Homo sapiens: one gene and its partner. The protein of the gene in region 1 interacts with the protein of each later gene in a pairwise test. Each region holds a gene or a part of one and is shown in the gene's direction. Other genes may lie near its edges.

Evidence for each region. Proteins that work in one complex are often made in the same cells at the same time.
Region 2: the proteins of PCSK5 (region 1) and ZNF837 interact in binary tests that used the Homo sapiens proteins (3 or more experiments, as listed by UniProt).

The regions. Positions count from the first base shown.
Region 1 is NC_000009.12:76,330,092-76,335,931, forward strand, and holds part of PCSK5 (proprotein convertase subtilisin/kexin type 5 isoform 3 precursor), read left to right. Parts: intron 1-828; exon of another isoform or gene 829-1,462; intron 1,463-2,341; coding exon 2,342-2,519; intron 2,520-5,840. UniProt on the Homo sapiens protein: Serine endoprotease that processes various proproteins by cleavage at paired basic amino acids, recognizing the RXXX[KR]R consensus motif. Likely functions in the constitutive and regulated secretory pathways.
Region 2 is NC_000019.10:58,374,150-58,378,657, reverse strand, and holds part of ZNF837 (zinc finger protein 837), read left to right. Parts: intron 1-548; exon of another isoform or gene 549-1,075; intron 1,076-4,004; exon of another isoform or gene 4,005-4,508. UniProt on the Homo sapiens protein: May be involved in transcriptional regulation.

The DNA.
Region 1 (5,840 bases):
GCCTGTGGGGTTACACTTTAAGAACATGTAGATATTCAGCTCCTCATCAAAATTTCCCCTCCATTTAGCATGGTTGATTAAGAAATCCCTCTTGAGCAAAAAGTGGCACAGGTCAAGGTTGGCCACGGTCCCACAGATCAGAGTTGAAGGTTATTGCTAATATGAAACAATGTCCTCAGGTTCCCAGGGATACTGTGACTAGGCTTAAAACAAGCATGGGAGAAAGAAAATGAAACAAAACTTAACTAAAAAAGAAGTCATAGGAGACAGAAGAGAGAGATGAATATGGTGAAGACCAGGAAGTATGAGCACTTTTCTCCCCCACCAGGAGAGTAGACCTGAGAAGCGTGAAACTCCAAATAGACATGTGTGGTAGGCTGGGCGCAGTGGCTCATGCCTGTAATCCCAGCACTTTGGGAGGTCGAGGCAGGAGGATTGCTTGAGCCCAGGAGTTCAAGGCCAGTCTAGGCAACATAGTGAGACTTCATCTCTACAAAAAATGGAAAAAAATTAAAATTTTAAATTTAAAAATTTTAAACATTAAAAAAAAATGTTTTAAAGACATGCATGGCAAGCTTTTCCTCTTCATATTGAGCGAGGACACCATCCCCCTGCTAAGACACAGGGAGACCTATTCTCAATACCATTCCTGATCACTTCACAATAGAAAACACTCAAAGAGACCAGTCTTCTCTATCCATCTACCTTAGCTCCTGGTCCACAAATCTCTGTGACTCTCCTTCCCAGCAGTTGCTGCTTCATAAAAGCATTCCCTCCAGCCACGTCTCCCAGGTAATCCCACCCCGTCGGACCTTCTTTTCTACTTACGTCCAATCTAGAGTGCCACCAGTAATCATCTCAGATGCCTTCATATAGAGAAGACAGCTTGCCTCCACAAAGTGGTCTTCCCCTCATCCGAGGCTGCAGATTAGACTAGAATTGAGGCTTCAGTGCTGGTATAGGACACAGAGCTGTAGTCCCCCTGGGAAATGGGTGCAGATTTGCTCAGCCTGGTATCCTCACATTCTCTCTACCCTGTCCCACACCACCACACCACCAGGGTCAGGCTATTTATAAATTAGATACTTTTTTTGGACATCGTGGTAGACTGAATAATGGCCCCCCTGAAGATGACACATCCTGATCCCCAGATCCTGTAAATGTATTACTCTACTTGGTAAAGGACTTTGGGGCAGTGATTTAGTTGAGGATCTCGGCATAGAGAGATTATCCTGCATTATCCACGTAGACCCAATGCCATCACAAGGGTCTGATAAGAGAGATGCCGGGGGTGGGCCAGGCATGGTGGCTCACGCCTGTAATCCCAGCACTTTGGGAGGCCGAGGTGGGCGGATCACAAGGTCAGGAGATCGAGACCATCCTGGCTAAAACGGTGAAACCCCGTCTCTACTAAAAATACAAAAAATTAGCTGGGTGTGGTGGCAGGTGCCTGTAGTCCCAGCTACTCGGGAGGCTTAGGCAGGAGAATGGTGTGAACCCGGAAGGTGGAGCTTGCAGTGAGCCAAGATTGTGCCACTGCACTCCAGCCTGGGCGACAGAGTGAGACTCCATCTCAAAAAAAAAAAAAAAGAGAGATGCCAGGGGATCAGAGTCAGTAATAGAAGGTGATGTGATCAGAAGCAGAGGGACAGAGAGAAGCTACTGCACTGCTGCCTTTGAAGACAGAGGAAGGGGCCATGAGCCAAGGCATGCAGGTGGACTCTAGCAAGTGGAAAAGGAAAGGAAACAGATTCCCTCCTAGAGCCTCTAAAAGGAACAGAGCCCTGTGGATCTATTTTGGACTTCTGACCTCCAGAACAGTAAGATAATAAATTGTTGTTTCAAGGCCCCAAGTTGGGGATACTTCATAGGAACAGCAATAAGAGACTAATACGGCGGTGTTTTTCCTTCAGGAAGCTGGGGCTTCCCCCTAGTTAACCAGATACATGAGCTGGACAATGAGCCATTGCCAACATCCACAGGCGCCGGACTGTAGTTTCTGTTCTACCCACCACAGCTAATCCACTGAGAAATTTGGGTGGGACACAGATGAGATTTGGATCTCTGATGAGATGAGATGGGATCACTGATGAGATTTGGGTGGGACACAGAGCCAAACCATATCACTGACTTCTGTTTTCCTTGTATTCCTCATGGCCTTAGGGCAATTCTGTTTCTTGGACACTAATCTTATTTCCCAAACATATCCATCAGCTCACAGGATCATCCCATTCCTCCTGCAGCCCTCTCCTCCCTCCCGCCATGGTACACAAGAGGGAAAATACAGGGGAGACATGTGTCATGCTCGATGTCCAAATAGACATTTTTTCTCCCATGACAGACACAACCTGTGTGAAGGACTGCCCAGAGGGCTATTATGCCGATGAGGACAGCAACCGGTGTGCCCACTGCCACAGCTCTTGCAGGACATGTGAAGGGAGACACAGCAGGCAGTGCCACTCCTGCCGACCGGGCTGGTTCCAGCTAGGAAAAGAGTGCCTGCTCCAGTGCAGGGAAGGGTAAGTGCTCAATACATTTTCCCCCATGTAATTTCACAGCCACAGCAGATATCAACCCATTTTACAAATGAGGAAACTAAGATTCAGAACACTTATAAAACCAGGTTGAAGTCTCAGTGCTAGTAAGGAGCAAAGATGAACCAATTCACAGTAACAGAAGAGAAACAGGAGAGGCAGAGTGACCGAGTGAGTTAACACAAAGGGTCAGATTGTCAAGCCGGACTCACCTGAGCAATTGATCTTCCTCAACGACAGTCCTTACTGAAAATTCAAAGCATATTGGCAGCTGGGCACTGTGGCTCATGCCTGTAATCCCAACTACGTGGGAGGTTGAGGCTGGAGGATCACTTAAGGCAGGAGTTTGAACCAGTATGGGCAACATCTTGAGACCCCATCTGTAAAATATTAAAATAAGATTAGCTGGGCATGGTGCCATCAGGCTATAGTCCCAGCTTCTATAGAAGCTGAGGCAGGGGATGATCACTTGAACCCAGGAGTTGGAGGCTGCAGTAAGCTATGATTGCACCACTGCACTCCAGCCTCAGTGACAGAGCAAGACCTTGTTTCTAAAAATTAAAACAATTTGGCAAAGGGTCTCAGCAATCACAAGGCAGAAGCAAAGCATCCTTTCCTCAGAGAAGCCCAAGATCATTAATGGAGGTTCTTTTTCTTCACCTTCAGGACTTGTTCTGATTCAGATTTAAAATTCAGGGTCTCACATTCTCCCAACCTGCTTATGTGAGGAGAGCAGTGAGTGTGGAACATTGATTTACAAAGGAAATAGTTCCATTAACATCTCCATTTATTCCCCATTAATTCCCCAACCTGTCATGTCACCTATAAATCCACAAATTACAGGTTTTGTTATCATAAACAACGTAGACACACGCACTTGATGTATCCTTCTAAAAGCATTTCATGGATAAGGACTCTATTATTTTTCTGCTAGGAAGAACTGTTAGTGTTATCAGAAGGTCTGATTGCCAGCATATCCTTTTTCTCCCCCAGGCATTCCCAGTAAAGAGTAAAAGATTGATGATAGGCCTGTTGCTGACTCTTTCTACCCAATCAATAACCTAGAGCACTGGGAGTTTCCAGACCCAAATCAAGGGCTGTAACCTTAGACCTTCCTCAAATGCTTTCACCCAAATTGACACATCTCTTCGGTCCTATAGCAGTTACTGCTTGTTTCATTCATTTTAGTGCTATATGCTGCCTTGCATTTTGATTTATCTCATTCATTCACTTATTTATTTAACACATTTCATGATGAGTACTTTGTATGTATAAATAAGATGAGTAAAAGAAAGACTGACTGTGTTTGTTTTCACGCGGCTGATAAAGACATACCCAAAGACTGGGCAATTTACAAACTAAAGAGGTTTAATTCGACTTACAGTTCCATGTGGATGGGGAGGCCTCACAATCATGGCAGAAGGCAAGTAGGAGCAAGTCACATCTTATGTGGATAGCGGCAGGCAAAGAGAGAGAATGAGAGCCAGGCGAAACGGGTTTCTCCTTATCAAACCGTCAGATCTCGTAAGACTTATTCACAACAGCAAGAACAGCATGGGGGAAACCGCCCCTACAATCCAACCATCTCCCACAGGGTCCCTCCCACAGCACATGGGAATTATGGGAGTACAATTCAAGATGAGATTTGGGTGAGACACAGAACCAAACCATATCACTGACTTTAAGAGTTTATTCTTATTTTTATATGCCTCTTCCCAAGAAAATTATAAACTCATGGAAGAAAAACACCTCTTACGTCTTACATTTGCTTCTACAACACTCAGCACAGAGCCACACATTGGCAGCTCTTGAAAAACACCAGCCAGGCTGGGCAGGGTGGCTCACGCCTATAATCCCAGCACTTTGGGAGGCCGAGGTGGGTGGGAGGTGAGGTTAGGAGTTTGAGACCAGCCTGGCCAACAGGGTGAAACCCCATCTCTACTAAAAATACAAAAACTAGCCAGGCATGGTGGCACGTGCCTGTCATCCCAGCTACTTGGGAGGCTGAGGGAGGAGAATTGCTTGAACCCAGGAGGCCAAGGTTGCAGTGAGCCAAGATCACACCACTGCACTCCAACCTGGAGCAAGATTCTGTCTCAGAAAAGAAGAAAAACACCAGTCATATAGATCAAGGAAGAAAGGGCCCTGCCAGACAAGAACAGAGATGGATGGCCAGGTGTGGTGGCTCATGCCTGTAATTCCAGCACTTTCAAAGGCTGAGGCGGGCAGATCACTTGAGGCCAGGAGTTCACGACCAGCCTTGCCAACATGGTGAGACCCTGTCTCTATTAACAATACAAAAATTAGCAGGGTGTGCAGGCAGGCACCTGTGATCCCAGCTACTGGGGAATCTGTGGCATGAGAATTGCTTGAACCTTGGAGGTGAAGGTTTCAGTGAGCCAAGATCGCACCACTGCACTCCAGCCTGGGCAACAGAACAAGACCCTGTCTTAAAAACAAACAAACAAACAAACAAAAACAGGAATGAAGCTACCTGGCTTAGCCCTTCTGCATCACCCTAGTAAGTGTCTGAAAAGATCTGGATCCCATCTTCCTCAAATCAAGTCAGTAAACACTCTCAAACACAAAAAGGGTGCTTGATCATCCTGTGATCTAAGTAGAATGCAGACCATGGAATTAAGAAGACAATTGTTCCACAGCGTGTAAAGTTCCCCAGGGCTGGTGGGGGGAGGCACAGGTTGCCATAGATCTCTTTAATAAAGAAGAAATGGAATATTCATGAGGTATATGAGAACTCTTCCTTTAGTAAAATCAGTGTTCCACATGCTTGGCATAACCCTTGTATGTTAAATCTCTGGCTTGGAAAAGTAGGCATACACTTCTCTGCACCCTATCCCAACCCACGTAATTATTTTGGTGTTTAACTCAGAGAAGTTTCTTTAAAGCCTAGGTTACTGCTTGTGCTTATGCTCTTCAAGGCTGGGAGGCTCAAAAGATGAGTCCTCAAAGCAAGCAGTGGTGTTGTACTCTTTTAATCTGTTCCAATAAACTCTTCATTGTCTCTTTTAGCATTACTCCTTGATAATTTTAAAAACCTACTTAGAATTGATAAGCTTTCTTTCCCACAGTTCCTACTGATGCTTTTCATCTTTATAACAATCTATAATAAAAACAGTAGGTAAAAAAACTTTTGTATGCTGCTTAAGAGTTACAAAGTATTTCCACTCACAATATATCTTTACATTATGATTTGATTCTACAACAATCTCATGACGTTACTGTTAGTCTCTCCATTTTACAGATGAAGAAACTGAGGATCAGAGGGGTTAAGTGACTTGCCCAAAG
Region 2 (4,508 bases), on another chromosome or scaffold:
TTTTGCAGCCTCCTTCAGTGGAACCTGCCTGATCCTGGGTGACCTCATGTGCCCATCCATTCTTGGGCCTGTCCACTGATTCCATGGTGATCAATTGTCCCTGTTTGGCCAGGCTGTCCCAGGTATGGTCTTTCACCCTGGGAAGTCCTCAGCCCCTAAGTCCCTAGAGTTCTAGGAAGTCATGCTGAGTGCTGGTCCTAGCCCTGCTCATGCCACCAGCTGTTGTACAGACTGTGACATGAAGCCAGCAGCCTTGGAGCTAATAGCAAGGCAGGTGCCCAAGTCCCTCCATCCCTGACATCTGGGTCTCTGTGACCTGGAGTTGTGTCAGAGAGGTCCAGATCCTGGCTGTGGGGCTTCTGGGATGGCACATTGTGAAAGCGGGGCCCCTGACCTCCTGCTGCTCAGCATCCATAGTGGCATGCTCCCTCCTCCGTGTAAAGGGCTGGAGTCCACACTGGTACCCCCATCAGAGTCTATGGCTGGGGAGTTCCCTGCCCTATGTGTGGGGACCTCAGATCCCAGCCTGGCAATGACCCTGGACCAACCCCTTTAGCAGTGGGTCCTGGTGGCTTTCTCAGGAGCTCTTCAGTCAGCCTGGCCTCTCAGAGGTAGACGAGGGAACACTACAAAACCTGCAGTGCTCAGAGACAGAGGCTTGAGAGAGTGTGGGGAGGTGGGCAGGATGGGCCTGCCCCGAATAGCCAGGTCCACGGCCAGCAGATGGACTCGAGAGAGAGAAGCCGACACCTGTGAGAAACGCCAGATACTGTGTGTGGTGGTTGGGAGCCAGCAGGCAGCCTGGGTGTGGACAGAGCTCCATGGTCAGACAGACCAGAATGTGTGTCTCCATGTCTTGTGTCCTGCCCTCAGTCTCCTCCCTCCCGTCACAACTTCCCATGTGGTGGCAGCAGTGCCCTTGGGTGTGTGCCCCTGTAAGGAATTGCCCTGTGCCCTGAATATCATTCCCAGCGAGCATGTTCAGTTTCTAATGAAGAGTTTTCTTTGCTTTCTTTTTTTGAGATGTGGTCTCACTGTGTTGCCCAGGCTGGCGTGCAGTGGTGCAATTGTAGCTCACTGCAGCCTCAATCTCCCAGGCTCAAGCGATCATCCCACCTTAGCTTCCTGACAGCTGGGGCTACAGGCTTGCACCACCACACCTGGATAGTTTTTTTTTTGAGATGGAGTCTCGTTCTGTCACCCAGGCTGGAGTGCAGTGGCAAGATCTCGGCTCACTACAAGCTCCGCCTCCCGGGTTCACACCATTCTCCTGCAGGCGCCCACCACCACACCTGGCTAATTTTTTCTATTTTTTAGTAGAGACGGGATTTCACCATGTTAGCCAGGATGGTCTCAATCTCCTGACCTCGTGATCTGCCCACCTCCCAAAGTGCTGGGATTACTGGTGTGAGCCACTGCGCCCAGCCTTTTTTTTTTTTTTTTGACGGAGTCTCGCTCTGTCGCCCAGGCTGGAGTGCAGTGGCACGATCTTGGCTCACTGCAACCTCCGCCTCCCGGATTCCAGTGATTCTCCTGTCTCAGCCTCCCGAGTATCTGGGATTACAGGTGCGCGCCACCTCGCCTGGCTAATTTTTTGTATTTTTAGTAGAGATGGGGTTTCACCATGTTAGCCAGGCTGGTCTCAATCTCCTGACCTCGTGATCCACCCACCTTGGCCTCCCAAAGTGTTGGGATTACAGGCATGAGTCACCACGTCCGGCCATTTTTTTTTTTTTTTTTAATAGAGACAGGGTTTCACCATACTGCCCAGGCTGGTCTCTAACTCCTGGGCTCAAGCCATCCACCCACCTTGGCTTCACAAAGTGCTGGGATTATAGGCATAAGCCACTACACCCAGCCAAGTTTTCTCTTTGATATGAGTGAATTAACAGACACCTGGTTAAAGAAAATGCTTTTACCCCAGAGCTTAAGCCTCTGATGTGGAAACTATGCTTGGTACTCTGGTATGCAGTTGACTTGGCTGTGTGTGAGAAATTATTTTATTTTTACCTAGAGATTTAAAAGAACTTGTTTTTCTCTTTTTTTTTCCTTTTTTCTTTTCTTTCTTTTTTTTTTTTTTTTTTTTTTTTTTTTTTTTTTTTTGAGACAGAGTCTTGCTCTGTCACCCAGGCTGGAGTGTAGTGGCCTGATTTTGACTTATGGCAAGCTCTGCCTCCCGGGTTCAAGCCATTCTCCTGCCTCAGCCTCCGGAGTAGCTGGGACTACAGGCGCCTGCCACCACACCCGGCTAATTTTTTGTATTTTTTTTAGTAGAGATGGGGTTTCACCGTGTTAGCCAGGATGGTCTCGATCTCTTGACCTCGTGATCCGCCCGCCTCGGCCTCCCAAAGTGCTGGAATTACAGGCGTGAGCCACCGCGCCCGGCCAAGAACTTGTTTTTCTCAATACAAATGTATTGCTTAAAAGAAACCACCTTCGGCCGGGCGCAGTGGCTTGTGCCTGTGATCCCAGCACCTTTGGGAAGCTGAGGCAGGGGGATCACTTGAGGCCAGGAGTTTGAGACCAGCCAGGCCAACAGGGTGAAACCTCATCTCTACTGAAAATACAAAAATTAGCTGGGCGTGGGGGCAGGCACCTGTAATCCCAGCTACTCGCCAGGCTGAGGCAGGAGAATTGCTTGAACCTGGGAGGCAGAGGTTGCAGTGAGCCGAGATTGTGTCACTGCACTCCAGCCTGGGCAACAGAACGAGACTCTGTGTCAAAAAAATAAATAAATAATAAAATAAAAATAAATAAATAAACCACCTTCATCCCATGCAGTGCTTTCGTGTGACCAGGGCTCAAATGACATCCTGGATGTTGCAGGGTGGGCCGACGCCTGACAGGCTGCAGGAAGGAGCACTGTGGCATGGGTGCATTCTGCTTTAAAAAAAAAAAAAAAGATATAAATCAGCTGGGCGAGGTGGCTCACACCTGTAATCCCAGCACTTTGGGAGGCCGAGGCAGGCGGATCATGAGGTCAGGAGTTCGAGACCAGCCTGACCAACATGGTGAAATCCCATCTCCACTAAAAATACAAAAATTAGCCGTTCTTGGTGGCACATGCCTGTAATCCCAGCTACTCAGGAGGCTGAGGCAGGAGACTTGCTTGAACGCGGGAGGCAGAGGTTGCAGTGAGCTGAGATCACACCACTGCACTCCAGCTTGGGTGACAGAGGGAGACTCCGTCTCAAAAAAACAAAACAAAACAAAACAAAACAAAAATATATAAATCATGTAACAAATGAACCATTTTACAATTCAGGTTGGGTTTTAGTATATATATATCTCTAATATATATTTACATTCTATATAAATATATACTCTTAAGTATATATGTAATTTTATATATATATATATATATATATATATATATATATATATATACTTTTTTTTTTTTTTGAGACAGATTCTCGCTCTGTTGCCCAGGCTGGAGTACAGTGTTGTGATCTCGGCTCATTGCAACCTCCTCCTCCCAGGTTCAAGCAATTCTGCCTCAGCCTCTCAAGTAGCTGGGACTACAGGCGCCTGCCACCACACCTGGCTAATTTTCATATTTTTAGTATAGACAGGGTTTCACCATGTTGGCCAGGGTGGTCTCGAACTCCTGACCTCAAGTGATCCACCTGCCTCAGCCTCCTAAAGTGTTGGGATTACAGGCGTGAGCCACTGTGCCCGGCCATGTTTTTGTGTGTGTGTATATATATATATAATTTTTTTTTTTTGAGATGGAGTCTTGCTCAGTCGCCCAGGCTGGAGTGCAGTGGTGCGATCTCGGCTCACTGCAGCCTCCACCTCCCAGGTTCCAGTGATTCTCTGCCTCAGTCTCCCAAGTAGCTGGGACTACAGGAATGTGCCACCACACCCGGCTAATTTTTGTATTTTTAGCAGAGATGGGGTTTCGACATTTTGGCCAGGCTGGTCTCGAACTGGCCTCAAGTAATCTTCCCACCTTCGCCTCCCAAAGTGCGGGGATTACAAGTGTGAACCACCGCCTGGCCAGGTTTTAGTATATTTTTTAGGTTTTAATATATTCACTATGTTGTGCAACCATCACCACTATAATTTCCAGAACATTTTAATTACCCCAAAACTTGATACCCGTAAAGCAATTACTCCCCACTCTTTCCCCTCAGCCCCTGGCGACCACCAGTCTACTTTCTGTCTCTGTGGATTTGCCTATTCTGGATATATCGTATAAATGGAATTATGCAATATGTGGTCTTTTGTGACTCACTGCTTTTACTTTCCATGTTTTCTAAAGTCCATGTTGCAGTATGTGTTAGTACTCATCCATTTTTATGGCTGAATAATATCCCATTCTATGGATATACCACATCTTATTTATGCATTTGTCATTTTATATACTTGGCTTGTTTCTCCATTTTGGCTACTGTGAACAGCGCTGCTCTGAACATCTGTGAGCCAGTGTTTGCTTGAATGCCTGAGTTCATTTCTCTTGGGTGGATACCTAGGGGTGGAATTACTCGGGGTGTGGTAGCTCCATC